Regions from separate parts of the Homo sapiens genome. Here region 2 is linked to region 1. Evidence: fine-mapped expression QTL. A gene starts in region 1. The other region holds a variant in brackets. All regions are shown on one strand. Distances are from middle to middle.

Evidence for each region.
Region 2: its variant is fine-mapped to the expression of GRK5-IT1 in tibial artery (GTEx, PIP 0.93).

The regions. Positions count from the first base shown.
Region 1 is chr10:119,202,993-119,212,703 of GRCh38, reverse strand. GRK5-IT1 (GRK5 intronic transcript 1) reads right to left here and starts at 4,283. Exons shown (of 2, transcript NR_186528.1): 1 at 4,054-4,283; 2 at 1-1,223. It overlaps GRK5 (G protein-coupled receptor kinase 5), which reads right to left and starts at 5,133. Exons shown (of 16, transcript NM_005308.3): 1 at 4,735-5,133. The coding sequence starts at 4,786. RefSeq lists silencers at 4,707-4,756, 4,807-4,876, 5,087-5,916 and enhancers at 6,257-6,366, 6,387-6,436, 6,547-6,626.
Region 2 is chr10:119,649,707-119,659,417 of GRCh38, reverse strand. BAG3 (BAG cochaperone 3) reads right to left here and starts at 8,038. Exons shown (of 4, transcript NM_004281.4): 1 at 7,563-8,038. The coding sequence starts at 7,742. RefSeq lists a silencer at 7,986-8,285 and enhancers at 8,486-8,565, 7,946-8,900. The variant T/C (reference allele first, on the strand shown) is at 5,126.

The DNA.
Region 1 (9,711 bases):
TTTGGTAACCAGAAGACTTTTTTATTTCAAAAATGTCTAGACATTATAATGCTTTATCTTGCACTCCAAACATATTGGCAACAAATATTAACTTTGAATATTGCCCACAGTCCTGGATAGTTTTATTTAAAACATCCCAGATATGGATTGAATAGCCCTTGGTAAAGGTGAATTTGGTTAAACATTGAGCCCGCTCCTGAAATTCACTTGGGCATTCTGGAAGTCTTCAGCCCAGATCCAAAGGGTATCATTTAGCAAGCCACTATAAGAGTTATAGCTTCTGAAGACATAATTTAAACAAGGATTAGTTTGGGCACTGGAAGAGTCAAGCACTTTGGAGTTTAGAATCTGACAAGCAGCAGCTAAGCTACTGAAAGATGAGAGCCTTGTGGGCATTTATCTGATGGTTTTTCAAACAGGCAGCCAGATTAACTACAATCATCGTTTGAAATCTTTAAGAAAGCAAAAGGCCTTCTGAAAACATTGCTTTTGGTTTCTCTACCTCCAAGTTGTCAGTACTGAAAAGGAAACTTTAAAAAAAAAAAAAGAAAGGCAGTTTGATTTAACGGCATTGTGTTTAACAGGCCAGGCTGCTTTTACACACACCGAGCTGCCTTAACCAGGATGAAAGCTGTCGCTTGGTAAGATTAACATTAAAATTGAAGGAGAAGCTTCAGGGTGGAGTACGTATGCCTCCACGTATGCCTTCACATAGCCATAAGAGGGCTTTGAGCTTCAGAGATGTTCCAACGTTCTAATAACCTAATTCACCATGTTTTGGTTTTATCACCATGAATTAGGGGTGCAAGGGAAAGAGGTCCAGGGCTTTCAGCCGTGCTGTGGAATGTTAAGTCTGTCCACGCCATAGCCTGCCCCACGCAGAGCTGGATGCTGGCTCACTCCTTCTTCCTGCCCTCCCTAACCTCTTCCAGGCCCCGAGGTGCTAATCTTGATGATCAGGAAGATCCAGCCAAGTCACAGAGTTACCTGAAAAAACGGTTCCTGTGTATTCTAATGTTTGGCAATTGTGACAAATGACAAAGTTGTTCCAGTCCTAACTTCTCAATTCCTGTGCTTGCTAGGGCCTCAGGAAAATGTGATCAATATTCCTTCAGGTATCTTTTTTGATCAGATATGGCTACTGCTGGCCTGTGAAGAAAGGAAAAGCGGGGCCTTGCAAAATTTTTTCTCACCACTGTTCACTCAGAAGAAAGGCAACAGATCTAGAAGATGAGAAAAACACAAAAACCTTTACTGCAACAATAAAACCAAAAAGAAACACACAAAAGGCACTCAGCAAACTCTCCTTCTCATTATTATTTCAACATTAGGTCGCCTGCCAATTTTCTGAGATTCTGAAATGTAAATAAATAGATAGAGTTAGTCTGGGCCTCTTTTTCATGAAATGCTTAATCACTTAGCTCATTCCCATAAATTGCCATGAATTCAGTCTCAACTTCTTTCTTTTTTTCCTTAAGCACTTTTTAGGAGAGCAATCTAAAGTTCCTAAGAGTGATCGAGTTGATGTTTTCTCATGAGACCCAGGACAAATAAACAGGCCCCAAAATACATTTCCGTGGTTCAAAATCTTGAACCCATACCTCTACCTTTTCTTATTTTAAAATAATTATCACAAGTGTTCATGAAGCTTGCTTGCTATATTTTCTAATTACTAACAATCCATCATTTTACTCTAATCCACTTACAGGCTTTCTATTTTATTGCTACATTAATGCTTTCCACTTTATATTATGTCTTATTACGGTAAGACTTTGAAGATACAGTGAATTTAGGAGCCATCTGTCTTTAATGCAAAACAAAAAGAAAAGATAGGTCCCAGTGTTACCCACCAACATGGACAACTACAAATTATTTTACAGCATTTTCAAAGTGTGCCTGTCTTTCTTCAAGGTCTGTTTCTCTATTGTTTGGGACAAATGTGACTTTTACTTGAAAGCCAAATTTTAAATTGCTTACGGTGTATTTTGTTAAGTGAACTAAATTAAATTTCACATTTGCCAATTATATTTCTCATCTGTAACCACTGACAAGAATCTTTAAGAAGTGTTTTTAAACCTTTTAAACAACTCAGATTTTTTTAATATACTGTTTTATATTAGATATTTCACTAAACTGACTGAAGATTTCATTTCTGAATATTTAGATAATATGGTTATTTGGAGAACTACTAAGTTTAGTAAAATAAATTCAAATATATGAGAACTGAGAAGAGAAACATAAATTGCTTTAATTTCTAAAAGTGTCCACACTAATTAGGATATATGGGCTCAAGTCTCTAATAAAGGCCCAGCCAAAAGAAACTGGAAGCACTTAAAATCATGGCTTTCCTCTAGGCATAAGAGAGAAAGAAGGGGAGAGATGCAAATTGTAAATGAGGTTTCCATTAAATGATTAATTTTTCTTGTTCACGTGTCAGTCTCTCCCTGCTTCCGCAGGCCCTCTCCATTTCCAAGGCATCATCAAGAGCTATTTTCTCACCATGAGATGACGACCAAACTCTCACAGCAAAATTGAAAAAGCCTTTAAAAGGAAAAAAAAAAGTGAAAGGCACATTCTTGAGCACTTTCAATCACTGTAATTCTGCCCCAATGGGAGTCGGTCACTCCACACAAGCTTCCAGCCTGCAGCTCTCTTCTCCAAGGCTCTGGGAAAAAAACCCAATTTGTTGGCCTAACGAACAACAATATCAGACAGTAAATTCACGTTGGTGAAAAAATACTGGGGAGAACAATTTGGAGGGGGCGGGTGGAATTGATATCACTTTGCCCACTCTAAGCAAAGCATTATAAAAGAAGCAACCAAATGCTCAGGGAAGAAAAAAAGCATCTATCAGGCAAACAAATATCTACAGCAGCAAATGTCGGGGGCAGATTCCCTGGGCAACAGGAGGAACCAGCGAAACTTGCAAGGCTCCAGTACCATCAGACCCAGTGATTTCCCAAGAAATAATTTCAGAATGGAGCGAGAGTGAAAACTTTCCCAGCCCCCGAATCCTGAGATACACAACCGTGTCCCACCACTAGGTGGCCAGCTGCAAAGGCTGAAAGAGGGGCGGGGGAGGTGGAGGGCTGTTTTCTCTGCTTCCTCCCTTTCAGGACCATTCCCCAACCCAGAGGAGAGCCTACCAGCACCCACCTAGATCCTGTCCACTAAAAATGTCAGGTTAGGAAAAAAAAAAAAAAAAAAAAAAAAAAACCACACACACACACACAGCTCAGGCCTTAGAACCTGAAGTCACCAAGTAACAAGCCTCTCCTAAAAATTTATTCCCACCAAAGCTAAGCAATGGGAGGGAGACTAACCTGAATATTTTAAACTCTGCTGGGGTTTTCAAAGCACTGCCTCCCTTCGGGGCTTCTGAAATAAACCTTCTTGCCCACTGGCTGCTTTAGAGTGACAAGTGACGACGAAAGTAAGACACGAATGCCGGGTTGAGTTGCTGAAACGCTGCCCACGGAAGGCTATGCATCACCTACCCCCACAGTGTGTAGGGAGCCACAAGGTGATGGAACGGGCTGAATAAACACGAATCGTTTTATTGCTGGCCAGAAATTCTTCCCTTCATTCATCAAAGTAGGTGAATGAAAATATTAAGCAGGTAAGACATTTTCATGGGCTGCTCACCGAGTATCCTTCTAAACTCAAGCCCTTACTCAGTCTGCCTTCTACCTTGTATCAAATAAAGCGTTCTCCCGTGAAAGGGAAAAACCTCTTCCCCTTTTATGAAAAAGGTCGCACACTAGAGCTCAAATCTTGACCAGAAAAAAAAAAGGAAAATATGCGACATAAATTCCAGGTATTCCTAAATACATATGTTTACATGGACACAACACAATCATTTCAGGAAGCACCCAAGTTTCTGCCTCCCCCCCCTTTTTTCTGTTTTTCATCAAAAGGAAGAGTCAAAATATGCGTTCTTAGGGTTTGACTCAGGATCTTACACACTCCATTTAGACAATATTTCCTGCCAGCTAAATGCAGGAAATCTAATGATTTGCATAGAAAACGTATCTAAAGCACCAGCACACTTACCTTTCTTTTCTTAACTGAGCCAAAATCTAACAATTTCAGTTATCACACTCCCAGAAAAGAAAAACCTGAAATACTGAATTATTTTCTAGGTGGTCTGTACAGCCATCCTTTGATAATTCTATGAAAAGGCTAATTCCTCAACATCTGACTTTGCCTTTAAAAGGCTTCCTTCCACACGACGGGATTTCCCTAAGAAACATCCCAGCGGATGGTTTCCAGCAATAGTCTATATCAACTCAGCCTGCGCAGGCAAAGACTTGGCTTCTGCTCATTCCACCCCCGCCCCTCGAACACACACACCAGTTCACACAGAACCATCCCGGGCCGACTTGAAACGCTATTTTATGTGCATGTTTGCTCGTCGCTCCCCGAATGAATGCTTTTCCAACTGACCTTTCAACAGCTGCCGAGATGGCACGCTCTGCAGGGCGAGCGCTGGAAACTAGGAGATATGTTAGCATCCAAATCCCTGCAACCTTCTCAGCCCAAGTCCAGATTCTCTGAGCCCCAAGGCAGGAACCCTGAAGGGTCTGCAGAGCCGCTCTCCGAAGTGTCCTGCTCGCGACCCACTCGCCGGCAGCGGGCATCCTGCACGGGCGCAGCCCCAGCCCGCACGCCACCCGACACCCGCACCCTGGCCCGCGGCGGACGCGCCGGGCACGTACCGGCCCTGCCTCTTACCTTCCCTGGCTTTCAGCAAGACCGTGTTGGCCACGATGTTTTCCAGCTCCATTGACAGTCGGCGGTCAGCAACGGAGCCGGCCGGCGGGGCTGTCAGCGCCTGGGGTGCTGCCGCTGCTGCTGCCGCTGCTCGGGCTGCCGCCGCTGCTGCCGGAGCCGGGGGAGCCAGCAGCCCGCCTTGCCTACCGCATTATTCCTGCTCTCAGCCCAAGAGTTTCCCCCTCTGCAAAGAGGAGCCGCCGCCGCCGCCGCCGCCGCCGCCGCTTCTTCCTCCCTCTGTGTCCCCCCTCCCCCCTCCCTCAACACGCTCCCCCCCACCCCCCACCCTCCGCGTGTCTCTGTCACTCCATTCTCCTCCCCTCCGGCTCCCTCGGATGCTTTAATGCCTCGGATGCTTCTGCCTCCCCTCAGTCCCTCCCGGGGGTGTGGTACTAGCAGGCTCGGGCGGCCGCACTGCGCAAGCGCCGGCCCAGGCGCGCCTCCTGCCTCGGTGCTCGCGGCGCGGGGCCTGCTGGGAGCTGGAGTCCTCCCGGCCGCGCGGCGCCGGGGCTGAGCTGGGCTGGCGCGCGGCTGTCGGAGCGAGGACCCGCCCCGGGACGGCACCGAAAGCGAAGGCGGGCACCGCCCGGCCGACAGGCGACTCAAAGGCGGCCCAGCCAAGCCGAAGTCCCCAGCACCCCCCCGCAGGCTCCCGCTTGCCCCCTTCCCGCCCCGTCGCCAGCCCGGAAAGCGGAGTGCACGGGCCCCGGTGACGGCGCGTGAAGCGCCGCGGCCCGGCAGGAGCCAGTGCGGGTCCCGAGCCGTGCTCGGAGTGGGAGGGCTGCCAGCTCGGCCGCGCGCCACAGCCCGCTTCCTCCGGTCCGCGCCAGGCCCGCGAGGGTCTGAGTCCCGGGTCAGTGACGCGCGCCCAGGGTCCCCGCACGCGGCGGCGGCCGGCCCGGCCTGGCCCCTGCCCAGCGTCTCCCACGCGGCGCCTCGGGCCGCGGACAAAGATGCACTTTGTTTCCTCGGAGGGCGCGAAGGGCTCTGCGGGTCGGCTGCGACCCGGCGCTGGCTGCCCGCGCTGCTCTCGGTGCGACCCGAGCGCCCCCCGCCGGCCGCGGTGCGCGGCGCGGGGTCTACGCGGACGGCGCCTGGGGCTCAGGGTCCAGCGTGGGAAGCTGCTTATTCTGTGAATAAACTGCCTTCCAGCACACCCGGCCAGCAAATCCACGAGCCTCCCTGCAGCCAAACCCAGCCAGATTAAGTAATAAAAACGCAGACGGAGTCGCCGGAGTCTCCGCCGTGGGGAGCGTTAATGAGTAACAGCCAGGCCAGCGCCAAGCCGGCGTGGGATTAACGTTTTTAAATTCCGGTCTTATTTATTTTGGGGCTCTTAGCTCCTTCCAGTGTTATGCTCAGAACATCAGACTCCAGGTCTGTGCTCAGCCCCGTTTCCTTGCTCCCTCCGCTCCGAAGGCCCCACTCCTGGAAATGGGCTGTCTTCGGTCACCCGGGATCTGCCACGAGTGTCCTACAGCTGGGGGCGGGGCAGGCAGGCCCCAAAGAACAATGAGGCCTTTGCCTCCTCTGCATCCTGCGGGCCGGATATCCGTTCAGAAGCCGACTCTGGGCCTTCTCTGTCCAGAAGGAGGAAACCCTCTGTCCCCAGGGCTGCCAGGAAGTCGCAGGGAGGTGCCGAGAGAAACAGAGAACAGTTATTATGCATTGGAGAATATAAAGAAATCAATAAACCTTCCAGGCCTTGGAAACTGGTCTGGTCACTGATTGTAACAACCCAAGATTACCTGCTTTCCTGGGGGAGTATACCCACCACCACCACTTCCTGGTGTCTAGACTTGGGTCAGTGAGTCTCCCAGGGCCTCATTTATCTTGTCTGCAAAATGGGGGCAACAACAGTTTACCTGTCAGAAGGCGGAGGGCTCAGCGGGTAACTTTTCAGGCACTTACCACTCCAGGAATTACTGTTCTAAGCAATCCAGGCTTGGTCTTTGCTACATATTCACGTGCCTAGAGCCCTAACCTTTAATGAAAGGATCTCTCTCAGACAGCGAGACCCCTAAAGCTGGCAGCTCCTAGAGCCCTCCACCAACCACGCTGGTCACTTGCTGGCAGCATAGGGCCTGATGAAGCCCGAAGTTTGTTTATTCGGCTAACATAAAAAAAAAAAGAAAGAAAATTTTTGAATGCCTTTAGATGGCTTATGCACCTTAACAATTTTCTTGGGCCGGGCGCGGTGGCTTACGCCTGTAATCCCAGCACTTTGGGAGGCCGAGGCGGGAGGATCACGAGGTCAGGAGATCGAGACCATCCTGGCTAACAGTGAAACCCTGTCTCTACTAAAAATACAAAAAAAAAATAGCCGGGCGTGGTGTTGGGCTCCTGTAGTCCCAGCTATTCAGGAGGCTGAGGCAGGAGAATGGCGTGAACCCGGGAGACGGAGGTTGCAATGAGCCGAGATCGCGCCACTGCACTCCAGCCTGGGCGACAGAGCGAGACTCCGAACCAAAAAAAAAAAAAAAAAAAAAAAACAATTTTCTCAAAGGTTGTTTTTGTTTGTTTTTTTGTTTTGTTTTGTTTTGAGACAGTTACTCTGTCACCCAGGCTGGAGTGCAGTGGCCCAATCTCGGCTCACTGCAACCTCGGCCTCCCAGGTTCAAATGATTCTTGTACTTCAGCCTCCCAAGTAGCTGGGATTACAGGTGTGTGCCACCATGACTGGCTAATTTTTGTATTTTGAGTAGAGACGGGGTTTCGCCATAATGGCCAGGCTGGTCTTGAACTCCTGGACTCAAGTGATCCAACCCGCCTCTGCCTCCCAAAGTGCTGGAATTACAGGCATAAGCCACCATGCCTGGCTCAAAGTTTCATGAGCATACAAATCACGGGGGATCTTGTTAAAATGCAGATTGCATTTGGATAGATCTGGGGTGGTTTCTGAGATGTTGCTCTTTCTAACAAACTCCAGGGCTCTGTCGATCCTCGTGGTCAGTAGACCACACTCAGAGTTGAAAAGCTTTCTAGTTTACCGTAACTCCCTATTGTCTTATACCCAGCCCAAGTCACTAGTGATTTTATTTATCTGGCCTGTATAGACATTTAAGTTTTCCATCCTGGGAACCCCTGCCTCTCCCTCTCATTTTACAGATGTGAAACAGACCCAAAGTAAGTGAGTTGGCATGGTCACTCAGCAAGTTAGTGTTAGACTATTTTTTTGTCCACTACAAGCTGTTGCATCCTGCCTACACAAATACATGGTTGTACATCAGGTTTTTGTGCCTCTATGAGGAAATTCAGACACTCCAATGCAAGAATGGAACAATAATGGCTAGCATTTACTCAACACCAACTGTGGGCCAGGCTCTTGTGGTCTTTTAAATGGATTATCTCCTTGAACACAATATCCAGATGAGGTAGGGAACACAGGCCTATTTTATAGATAAAGCACCAGGTTAAGAAAGGTTTTATAGGCCGGGCACGGTGGCTCACGCCTGTAATCCCAACACTTTGGGAGGCCAAGGCAGGCAGATCACCTGAGGTCAGGAGTTCGAGACCAGCCTAACATGGTAAAACCCCGTCTCTACTAAAAATACAAAAATTAGCTGGGTGTAGTGGCAGGTGCCTTGTAATCCCAGCTACTCGGGAGGCTGAGGTAGGAGAATGACTTGAACCCGGGAGCCAGAGGTTGCAGTGAGCCAAGATCATGCCATTGCACTCCAGCCTGGGCAACAGAGTGAGACTTTTTTTTTTTCCTCAAAAAAAAAGAAAGGTTTTATAATTTGTCCAGGGTCACATAAGTAATAAGTAGAAGACCCGGGATTTGAACCTGTCAGCCTGACTCAGAGTTGGTGCACTTAATTTCTGGCTTGCGCAAGCTAGCCAGCACAGCTTGGTAGTAACTGTTCTGTGTGGCTGCCGGGATGAACTTGTATTATAAGAAGGCAAAGCACCCAGTTGACTAAATCATTAAGATTTCAAGGGGTTTTCCATTTTCATCTATAATTCCACCATTATGGCTTTATTCCTTTCAATTAACTGCACTAACAACTCGTGGTCTTCTTGAAAAATGGGTTTGATTCAAGGAAGAGTAGGCTATTAAATATAAATAGCTAAGTAGGGAATCATTGACAGCCAGCTGAGAGCAAGAAGGGAAATCCAAATGGAGGAGTGGGGGTGAGGATGGAGGGATGGGAATATGTCAAAGACAGCCAGCTTCAGACTCCACTCAGGAGCAGCTGAGCCAAAAATGCAAAAGAAGTCAGATGCAGTGGCTCATGCCTACAATCCCAGCACTTTTAGAGGCTAAAGCAAGGGTGCAGGGGATGGGGGGGTGGAGATCGCTTGAGCCCAGGAGTTCGAGACCAACCTAGGCAACATAGCGAGACCCTGTCTCTACGAAATAAACCTAAAAATTAGCCAGGTATGGTGGCACTGAGCTATGATCGCCCCACTGCACTCCAGCTTGGGTAACAGAGTAAGACTGTCTCTAAAAAATAAAAAAGCAAAAGAAACAGGGAACCTTCAAATTCTTCTCTCAGCACCTGTATCTGCCATGAATAAAGCTGCTGGGTCAGAGTTCTTGTAAATAGAAGTCTACTATGCTGGAAAGCCACAAACCTATCGGCCTTCTAAAATATAGATTCCTTTTGCCTGAATAATCAAATTGGCTTTCTGAATAGTCCAGGAACTGGAGTTTCCATTCCTTTCCTTGACTCAAAGCTTTTTAATCCTCAGGAAGCAGCTGCAGATAGAGCTTCCATTCTCTCATTTATCCTCTTCTCCTTCAGAGTTTACCTTTCTGTGTCCAGCCCTGCAGGGAGTTCAAGGCAATTTCCCAGGGAGCTCGCCACTGGGAAGGAAAACACACCGGATGCAAACAACCTCCATACAATGGAATAAGGGCCATTGTGGAGACACACACAAAGGACTTTGCAAACGGGAAGAAGTGATTTCAGGCACCAAAAGAGGAGAAATGTG
Region 2 (9,711 bases), 450 kb before region 1:
TCGGCCCCTCAGTAAGGTGGGCTGATGTCCCCCCTCACAGGCAGCGCTCCTAGCTCCTGCCTGGTACTTTGCGGCTGCACAGACACAGCTGAGGGAGACCCTCCCCTTGAGGAGCTGAGGCTGAGTAAAGCCAGCGCTCTACACAGCACAGTGGAGGACACAAGGACCCAGCCTATCTTGGGCAGAGGATGGGGAGATGCATCTATGGACGCATGGCGCAGGGTCTGGCAGCTGGGTCAAGGCTCCCGAAGGCCCCGCAGCTTCATCTGTTACTGTTCCTTTACATCCTCCACTCACAAGGGGCACGGGAAGCCCCAGGGAGGGCTCCAAGGGCCACCTGGACACTGGTCGGGGGAGTCAGCTACACTCCATACAAGGGGGATAAGAGGAGGCCTTGCTTCTAAGAAACAAGACCCCAGGCCTCTCTGAGAGCTGAAAGGCCCACGGACAGCCAGGACAGTCTGCTGTGTGGAGAGGCCACACACCTATCCACAAACACACTTCTACTCCACAGAGCAGGCTGCATATGTTTCCGGGAGTTCCACGCATGCATCAGTTCAGGCTTTGGGACGTTCGCCTCCCACACACCATCTTCCTTGATTCTCCCAACCCTGCTAACAGAAGTGTTGCTATGCCCACTTCACACAACGGGAGACTGAGGCTCAAGAAGGGTAAGTGCTTTGCCTAAGATCTCTAGAACCCAGGTTTGTCTGATGGTAAGGCCAGGTAGATGCTAACCTTTCTGCTACTCCTGTCACAGCTGTACACTGTGATAACATCCATGTGTCACTAACGTCTCCAAAACCTTCATCTCCCGGGGTAAAATGCAGCAGGAGAGGCAGCAGGAGAGAAAGGCTTCCATTTCGCCCAGCCACGCTCGGCTGAGGCTCAGACCTGGAACATTCAGTTCAAGTGTGCTCTGGGTCAGGGAGCCAGCGCTCCATGCTGAGTCATCAGGCCAGCCAGGCAGGGTACACGAGAGTGAGAGCACTCAGCTTAATTCTGAGTCACCACAGCCCCAAGACTGCAGGGACGCCCGGCATGGAGCGCTGTCAGAACCGGGGAAGACACCGTCCAACCCAGGAAGGAGTGCTAACCCCGCTGGGATGCTGGGGGTCTGAACTGACCCTGAAAGGGTGGGCCAGCGAAGGGGCTGGCTTTTCTTCTGCACATGAAGGGGCCTTCCCATCCTCCCACTGTATGAATTTTTAAACCATCCATTCATTTATTCATTCATTCAATGTCAAGGAAGAATTTTTTAAATAACTGAAAAAAATATATAATTCTACTTTAATAAACACTGAGGAAGATACTTTAAAACAGCAAACGTTTGTTCTCCAATTGAATGCTAAGGAATTTTCCGTAAAAAGTCTCCCCAGTTCACTGGGGCACAGCTCTGTGCTGGGAGCTCTTGGACAGCTGAGCTGTTTACAGGCTCCTGACGCACAGAGCTGGCACTCTGCGATTCTAGGCTTTTCTGAATTGACAGTGAATAAGAACCTTCACGTATACGGTGTCTGATCTTGCTGCCAGCCACACGAAAAAAAATTTTTAAGAGACTCTTTTCACAGTGCCAGGGGCTGCTCTCTGCACAGCTATGGAAGTAGGGTCTGGCTGCTGCCAGCTCCCAGCCTCTCCAGCCCTGCTGTAAGATGCTGTGTCATTGGGAGAAACAAAAAAGAGCTTCTCCAGACCTGTAAGGATGAACTTAGGGAATCAATACTGAAGTCCTTTGTGCAGAGAAGGCCATTCACAAAGTGACAAAAAGGAGCAGGCCTCTGGGGACCTTTAGGAGCCCAGGACAACTCTGCAGTTCTTAGGAACCAATGGAAGGCTTCCCGGGACACACCTGCATCCTTCACGGGCAGCTCTTCTGTATCTGCCTTCGCGCTCTGGGCAGGCCCATGTTCTACCCTTCTCCACAGTCACTCGTTCCATCTTTTCTGAGCCTGTGGACCCTGCCAGGCATCAAGAGGCAGCGATGAAGCACACAGACTCTGCCCCAGAACTCCTAACAGGGGTGTGACCCCAAGACAAAGCAGAAAAGTGCAGAGCTTAAGCAAAAAGATTCAAATTAAAATAATATGGGTTCCAGAAGAGAGACAGCCTGCTTCGGACCAGGGAGAGGCAGGACATGCTTTGTGGAGAACAGTCTCAAAGTGGGCAGACTTGTCCTCTATATGGCATTTAACACTGTGACTCGCACACTGTGGGCACTCAGTGAATTTCAGATGGGGTAAAGGAGTGAGTAAAGAGTCGGGCCCATCTCCTAAATCCAGACCCAGGTTCAAGAAACAGGCCAACATTTCTGATTAACTATACAAAGATGGACTCAGGGCTGTTTATCACCTCAAGCTGTGCCTGGGGAGTATAAAGCAGCCGTGCCTGGGGAGTATAAAGCAGCCAGGCCCGCTAAAGGCAAGTCTGTCTGTCACCCCTTCAGGAACTCAGATGGGGGTAAAGCCACAGAAGTCTTTCTGTTTATCACAGGCCAGGCACACTGCCTCTCCAAATCTGCTGTCCCATGTGTAAGACACTTCATAGTTTCTAGTTCAAAGAGCTGGTGAGGATTTAGAGATAAGGTTACCAAAAGCACCCACTCATATCTGGCACATATATATATATATGTGTGTGTGTTGACAGACAGAAAAATACTACATTCATTCCTCTCCCCCCAAATTCTTCCTAAGCTTTTGCAAGCTGCCTGGCTTCCTAAAAGGCTGCCAAGGTCCCAAAGATACCTTCATCGAAATACGTGACGACTTAGTAACACCAGATACCTCACATGGTATCACATGTGCCACATGATGCATACAGATGAATCCTGCACCTGCAAAACAAGGGGCTCTGGAGCCTGCCTCAGACGGCCGGCTGATGGGCATGGTGGCGCTCACCTATAATCCTAGCTACTTGGGAGGCTGAGGCAGGAGAATCGCTTGAACCCAGGAGACGGAGGTTGCAGTGAGCCAAGATCGCACTACGGCACCCCAGCCTGGGAGACAAAGTGCGACTCCGTCTCAAAAAAAAAAAAAAAAAAAAGAAGGCCAGCTGAGTCTATGCTCTGAGGCAGAAGCAGATCAGAGGTGTCTACTTGACTCACAACAAAAGGGAACCCAGGAGGGGCTGGAGAATAACACGGTCAAGTGTGACACAGGGTTCACTCGTGTTCGCCAGTGCCAGAGGGTCTCAAAGATCCTAATAAGCAAGGCCTTTGTCTTCAGTTTCTTCTGTAAGCTCTCTTAAACATTTAAGAGCAATATTAAAACAGCAAAACTTAAAGGAGAAAGAGTAGGTCTGGATGATGAATGGTTTTCTACTTTGGATGATAAACATCAGAACATCATTTTTAAATGTCAATAGAAAGTAATAAACATGTAGAGTGGTTTATATAAGGTGACTGTGTGTCATTCCAGAAACGAGGACAGCACTAAGCAAGCCTCATGGGTGGTATGAAGCTTTCTGACTCACAAGCAGCCCTGATAGCATCCAACAGTTAAGCCTTCCCAGCCCTGGCCAACGTCAAACGCTGCCGCAGGTCCTGTGTACAGGCTCCACCCTCATAAAGGGCAAATCTACCCTACAAAACGGGACAAATGATGTTCTCGGAGGTGCAGTCGGTTCTCATGTGAACAACACAGGCTGTTCTTCAGAGGGGAAAATGAAAGTCCTGGATGAGCTGGGCTCCAAGGCATCTGGCCATGCTGTTCATCTGCCCCCCAACAAATCACTTTCATGCAGTCGCACAGGAACTTGCTCAGCCACAACTGCAACTTGCTGGAAATACGAAGGAGAGAACGGCCACTCATTTCCTGATTGTGCTCCGCCTCTGCTAAGAGGCATAACAGCTTGCAATAGATCTGGAAAGAGCAAAACGATCTCATCTTTAAGAAAATTCAGGAGGCTCTGCTGAACCTTAAGCAAAATAAATGGGTCTCTCTACTTCAATCATAACTCGAAACATTTCCAGTGTTATCTGAAAGGATGTTTCTATCTCCCTGTCACAGTGCCTGAGTATAATCTGTTAAATGATTATGGTGAGATTCTGCCAGATGGGCAAGACAAAAAGAAAAGGCTCTGGCTTGCTTCTTCCTGGGGTCCAGGAAGATCTCTGGACCACCTCCCCACTCTCGCACTGCCAGCCACCCTGCCAGACTTTGCAAGGTGCTGTCTCGGCTCGCTTCCCATGTCATCCCCATATTCACACCTCCAGAAGCCCGCGTACCTGGGGAGTTTCCCCAAGAAGGAAAATGGAGGCTTGGGAAAATGCTCTGCAGGATAGATGTTCAGGAGGCACTAAGCCGCAGCTCCTCCTCCCCAAAATGGGATCACTGGCCATCCGTGGCTCCCACTGCCAGTGCAGCAGAATCAGAACCACCAAAAAAGCTTTCTGGACTTAATAGTTTTCTGGGCCCTACACTGAGCAATTCAGATTTGAACATGGGGTTGGGGCAGGGAGGCGATGAGACACAGCCACAATCTGTGTTCTTAACAGGACTCCCTGGAGAGTGCCAGACTGGTAACCCCCAAGATCCATGGAGCTAGAGCGGCCCTGCTCCATGAGGGAGGAAGGTCTCCCTCTCATCCCAAGGAGGCCTGGCGGGAACAGCACTCCAGAACATCCGGCCTCTGTTTATTCAGGGAGGAGCCTGGAGGAGTGGCTGCACCAGCACTGAATGCCATCCTCTGCCAGGAAAGGGCCTGGACTGGTATGAACTTGCCAAATTAGTGGGAAGCCCAAGTGTGCAGAAAATCAAAATCCAGGAAGACTGCAGGTGGGGAGGCCCAGCTGCTTAGAATGGGGCTGGATGAAGCCCAGCATCTTTGCCGGGAGCCGTCCTGCTTCAGCAATGACAGAAGATACTTGCTTTCGCTCTGCCCCTCTGTGAAAACAGGGAGTTGTCCTAACTACTTCAGGAGAAGGCGGAAGATCAACTGCAAGACGGCAGTAGAAGACGAAATAAAATACAAAGGTCTAGTCTTTTCTTTCCATTTTCTTACTAACGTGATTAAATTTTAAACATCCTGAAGCTGAGTCCTCCCCCAAAAGAGAGGTCGTCTCTTGAGCTCCTCATGCTCAATGAACAGCTTTTTACTGATTGACAGCATTTCCTCTTGAAGATGATGA[T/C]GCTCAGACGGGCCTCAGCTCAGCTCCTCCAAAATCGCCCTTTGTTTTCTGCAAGGGCCTTTTTCTCATTATGCATTGAGAAGCCAATTTCAAATACAAAATGATATTCAAGGATTTTCCACTACATTTAGTCTCCAGTAAGGTGTAACTCACACAAGTGCAACCTGATATTGTGTGTGTCAAAGCACAGGATTGAAAGCAATGAAGCACAAACAGCTCATGGGCTGAATGTTAGTTTTCTCCTTAAGTTTTGGTGCCATGCTGACAAGTCTCAAGTCATTCACTTGGTAAAGGGAACTCTTTTCTTGAGTTCATCAGTCCCATCATCAAAATCCAAGCAACCTCAGCACAGAGGTCAGTGACCCAATAACTTGGTGGCCAGGAGGGCACAAAAATAATCAAGTATTCTAGCCTGCATGCCTCAGTTTCCCAAAACACTCACTTCCAACTTCTGAAGAGACACACTGCCTCTTATTAGGACTTTCCTGACACTAGTTCTCTCCCTGTTGTTGGTACTAGCTGGATGACCTTCAAAGTCACACCTGAACTCTCTGGGTTTCAGAAAATAAAGAAGCCTAACATAAGAGATCTTCAAGGACATTTCAACTTTAAAATTTTGACCGTGAAATTTTCAAATAAATCTTCCCAGCATCAGACTTCTGATTTAGTAGTTCTTTGTATTTGCTGACAAGAATAATGGTAACTAAACCTGCTTTTTTTCTTTTAATAAGGTTTATGAAATCACAGCCTAACCCATGCACCAGGTGGGTACAGGAAGATCTCAACTTGCTGGGTAAGTTTCATGCTGAGAACAAAGTGCTGGGAATGTTTATGTTCAAACTTGATCTTCACTCACAACAAAGGCTGCCAACAGATACCACTATCCCTATGTCTACAGGAAGAAGGCTTCAAAATAATAGTTGTAAACCACACTAAAGATCATGTACATCCACGCAGACTCCTAAGAAAGGTGGTTTGAAATGAGTGTCAGTTTCACCCAAAAATGGGTGGAACAGACACACAAAAAGGTATATGTAACTGTGCCCATCCCAGCTAATTACAGCCTCTTGTACTAATTTTCAAGAATAAATATACAACTAATCTCTCGTAAATGTAAACTGCTGCCTGTACACGGTCTCACTGCTGGGCACCGGAGTTTTATCAATATTGTTAAAACAAAAAGTGCATAAAGATGAAGGGAAATAATACAGGTCTTTCTTCTAAAACAATGGGTTACACAGCAGTTTTAATTTGGTGAGTTTTTAAATCTTCAAAATAATTTACCAGCTCTTTGCTGCTTTTATCTTGCCCAGACGGCGTTAACAATTCAGCTTTAAGTATAACATATTTATTTTAAAAACTTTTTATCCTGAAAGCTCAAATTTATAAAAAATTGAAAGAATAGTATAACTAACTCTGATTTTTGAAAATTAACACACTCATTCCAAATTTACATTTTCAAATTTCATGCTCTTGGGGATTAAGAAGTATATATCCTTGCATGTATGTAAATGAGACATACTTCTGCTGTATTCACAAGAGTATCATTAGTCAGTTATTTGTGTACTGGTAACAAATCCTAAGTATTTTAATACCATAACAAGGCAGGAAGCGAATGCCATTATAAATATACACGTATCATTCTCTTTCTCTCCAGTGTGAGGCAATGTGGTAAGGCAATGGCCAACTGTAAGACAGTCTCAGATCTCTAGTCTAGATCTCTAGAAACTGCTGGGGAGAAGCACACCCTGTTTTTTATTTTACAAATCATACTAGGATACGTTCATATTGAAAGCACTTTCAAACAATAATACAATTTTAATTTAAAATACACACACACACATATATATATGAATGTTTTGACACCAGCCTCCAGAGTCATTGGGTGCCTAACATGGGACAGTAGCCAAGATACCCCTCAACCAAGTTGGAGAACTTGAGCGGTAAAATTCCCCCCAAAACCACCATCCAAGCTTGCGAGTGTCCCCCTCGAGTCCGCGGTCAGCAGGGTGCGCCGCGGGTCCCGGGCCCGGAGGCCGAGCGGGCAGCAGGGGCCACGGTGGGCCGGGGCCTCCGGAGCTGACCAGGCCGGCCGCCCCTCTCCCAGCCCTAGAGCGCGAGGCCAGCGCTGGACACCCGGCCTTCCGCCCTGGAGTCGAGCCGTGGACGGCACCGGAGCCACTGCGGGGTCGCTTCCCGGGCCACCGAATCCCGGGGCCTCCTTTCGCCCCGACGCCTGTCAAGGGCGGGTCCGGAGCGGGGACTCGTCCGGGCGCAGCGGGAGTGTGTGGCGGGGCGCGGAGCCGGTGTCCGCCCGCGAGGGGCCTTCGCCGACCCCCGGGCCCCGCCGCCTCGCGTCCCCCCGGCCCAGCCCACTCCCCGCCGCCTGCCGTCGAGGTGGCGCCACCGACCAGGGCGGGCCGCGGGCCCGGCTCACCTTGGGGCCCTCAGAGGGCACGCGCGGGTCGTTCCACGTAGTGGTGCGGCTGTTGTGGTCCACGAAGAAGGGCCAGCCGGTCTGCGGGTCGATCTTGATCTCCCATCCGGGGGGCAAAGGGTCGCGGTCACCGTTGCCGGACGCCACCTGCATCATGGGCGAGTGGGTGGCGGCGCTCATGCTGGGTTGGGGTCTGCCCGCTGGGGCGCGGGTGCGGGGCGCTGGCTCCGGGCGCCGAGTCTCTGGCCGGGCCGCCGCCGTGGGCCCCTCTCCGCCGCCGACGTGTCCGGGAAGCCGGCGCCGGGCACCTTTATGAATTAAAGGCGGGGGTGACGTGGCCAGAGAGGGGTGGAAGTGTCTGGAAATAGCCTCCTCGCTGCCAGAGGGGAAGGAGGAGATAAAGGGAGGTAGCAACTGGCCGGCTAGAAACTTCTGGTCCAGTCCAGAGAAGTTGGCCGCGGCCCGGGGTTGGATGCGGAGCTCCGCCCTGAGTCATCGGCTATAATCGCGGCGGGCGGGGCAGAGGAGCGGGGGCGGGGCCTCGGCCCGCTCGCCCCTCCCCCACCTCCTCCCGCCCCTCCCCCTTCCGACTCGTGCGCGTGCCCGGGCCGGAGTCGCCGCGGGCGGGCGCGGGCGCGGCTTCGGGGTCCGCCTGCGGGTGGGAAGCCGGACGAGCTGGACTGGGGCCGTCCTCCGTGCGCCCCGGGCGGGTTTCGGCTTTCATAGTCGCTCTCTCCCTCTCCTTTGCGCCGAGTGAGTGTTCCCGGGGCCGGAGCCCGTGCTCCCCGTGCCTGCCGCCCGTCCTTCCTGTACAAACAAAACCATCTCGCCCACCTCCACCCCCTCCCCCATATATGATAGCCGAGGACCCTGAGGGCTGTCCGGGAGGAGCGCGGGGACTCTCATCTGACACCGGAAGGAAGCCAGGGAGAAAATGGAAGTCAGTGCAAACTCACCTGCCTTCCTTTGGAAACTTCAAGAAAAAAAGAGATTGTATCAACTGATGGCTTTTAGTCTCCTAGACTAAAAAGAAAGTTTCGTTGCAGCTTTAAAGATAAATCACATTTTCTTGGGTCTGGATCTTTTTTATGGTAGAGATTGGTTCTTGCTATCTTATATCTTGACCCTGATTTGGGAAGTAAAGACCGAATAACCATGACATTTTTTGTTTGGTTTATTCAATTGCACTTGTAACCTGTCAAAGGAGAAAATTACAACACATTTAAAGATCTTTTTTGTTGTTGTTGTTGTTGATTTTCATTTTTTAACTTTTATTGTTAAAGATCTTATTTGTGATTCTAGAAATTGGGCAACATCTCCATTAAATTAGAATAAGTGCTCCCATGAGCTGAGCAGAAGAGGTTGGTTTTATAGACAGAGAAGGGCTGAAGAAAGCAGAAACAAAGAACCAAGACTGGATTGGTTGTTTCAAAATTACTTTCCTTGTAAGGAGGGGACAGAGAGACAGAATCATAGAAAAATAACTGATGAGGGCTTGCCACCATGGCTCATGCCTATAATGCCAGCACTTTGGAAAGTCAAGACTGGAGGACCTCTTGAGTCCAGGAGTTTGAGACCAGCCTGGACAACACAGTAAGACCCCCATCTCTGCATAAACAAAAAATAAGCCAGGTGCAGTGGCTTATGCCTGTAGTCCCAGCTACTCAGGAGGCTGAGGTGGGAGGCTCATTTGAGCCCAGGAGTTTGAAGCTGCCATGAGCTATGATTTTGCTCTTCATGCCAACCTAAGCGACAGAGCAAGACCCTATCTCTTTAAAAGAAAGAGAGAGAAAGAAAGAGAGAAATGATTGAGAGAAATGTAACATCAGGTTACATACTTCAGATTACTGTACAGTTGACCCTTAACATGGGTTTGAATTGAGCAGGTCCACTTGTACATGGATTTTTTTTCAATAAAAGTTACACCGATGTGCTTGCCTCTCCAGTCTCCCCTTCCACCTCCTCCACCTCTTCTGTCTCTGCCACCCCTTGACAGGAGAATCAACCCTTCCTCTTCCTTCCCCTCCTCAGCCTCCACGTGAAGATAATGAGGATGATGACGTTTATGATGATCACGTCCACTAAATGAGTAGTAAGTGTACTACTCTTCCTTATGTAAATGTAAAATCTCTTCCTTATGATTTTCTTA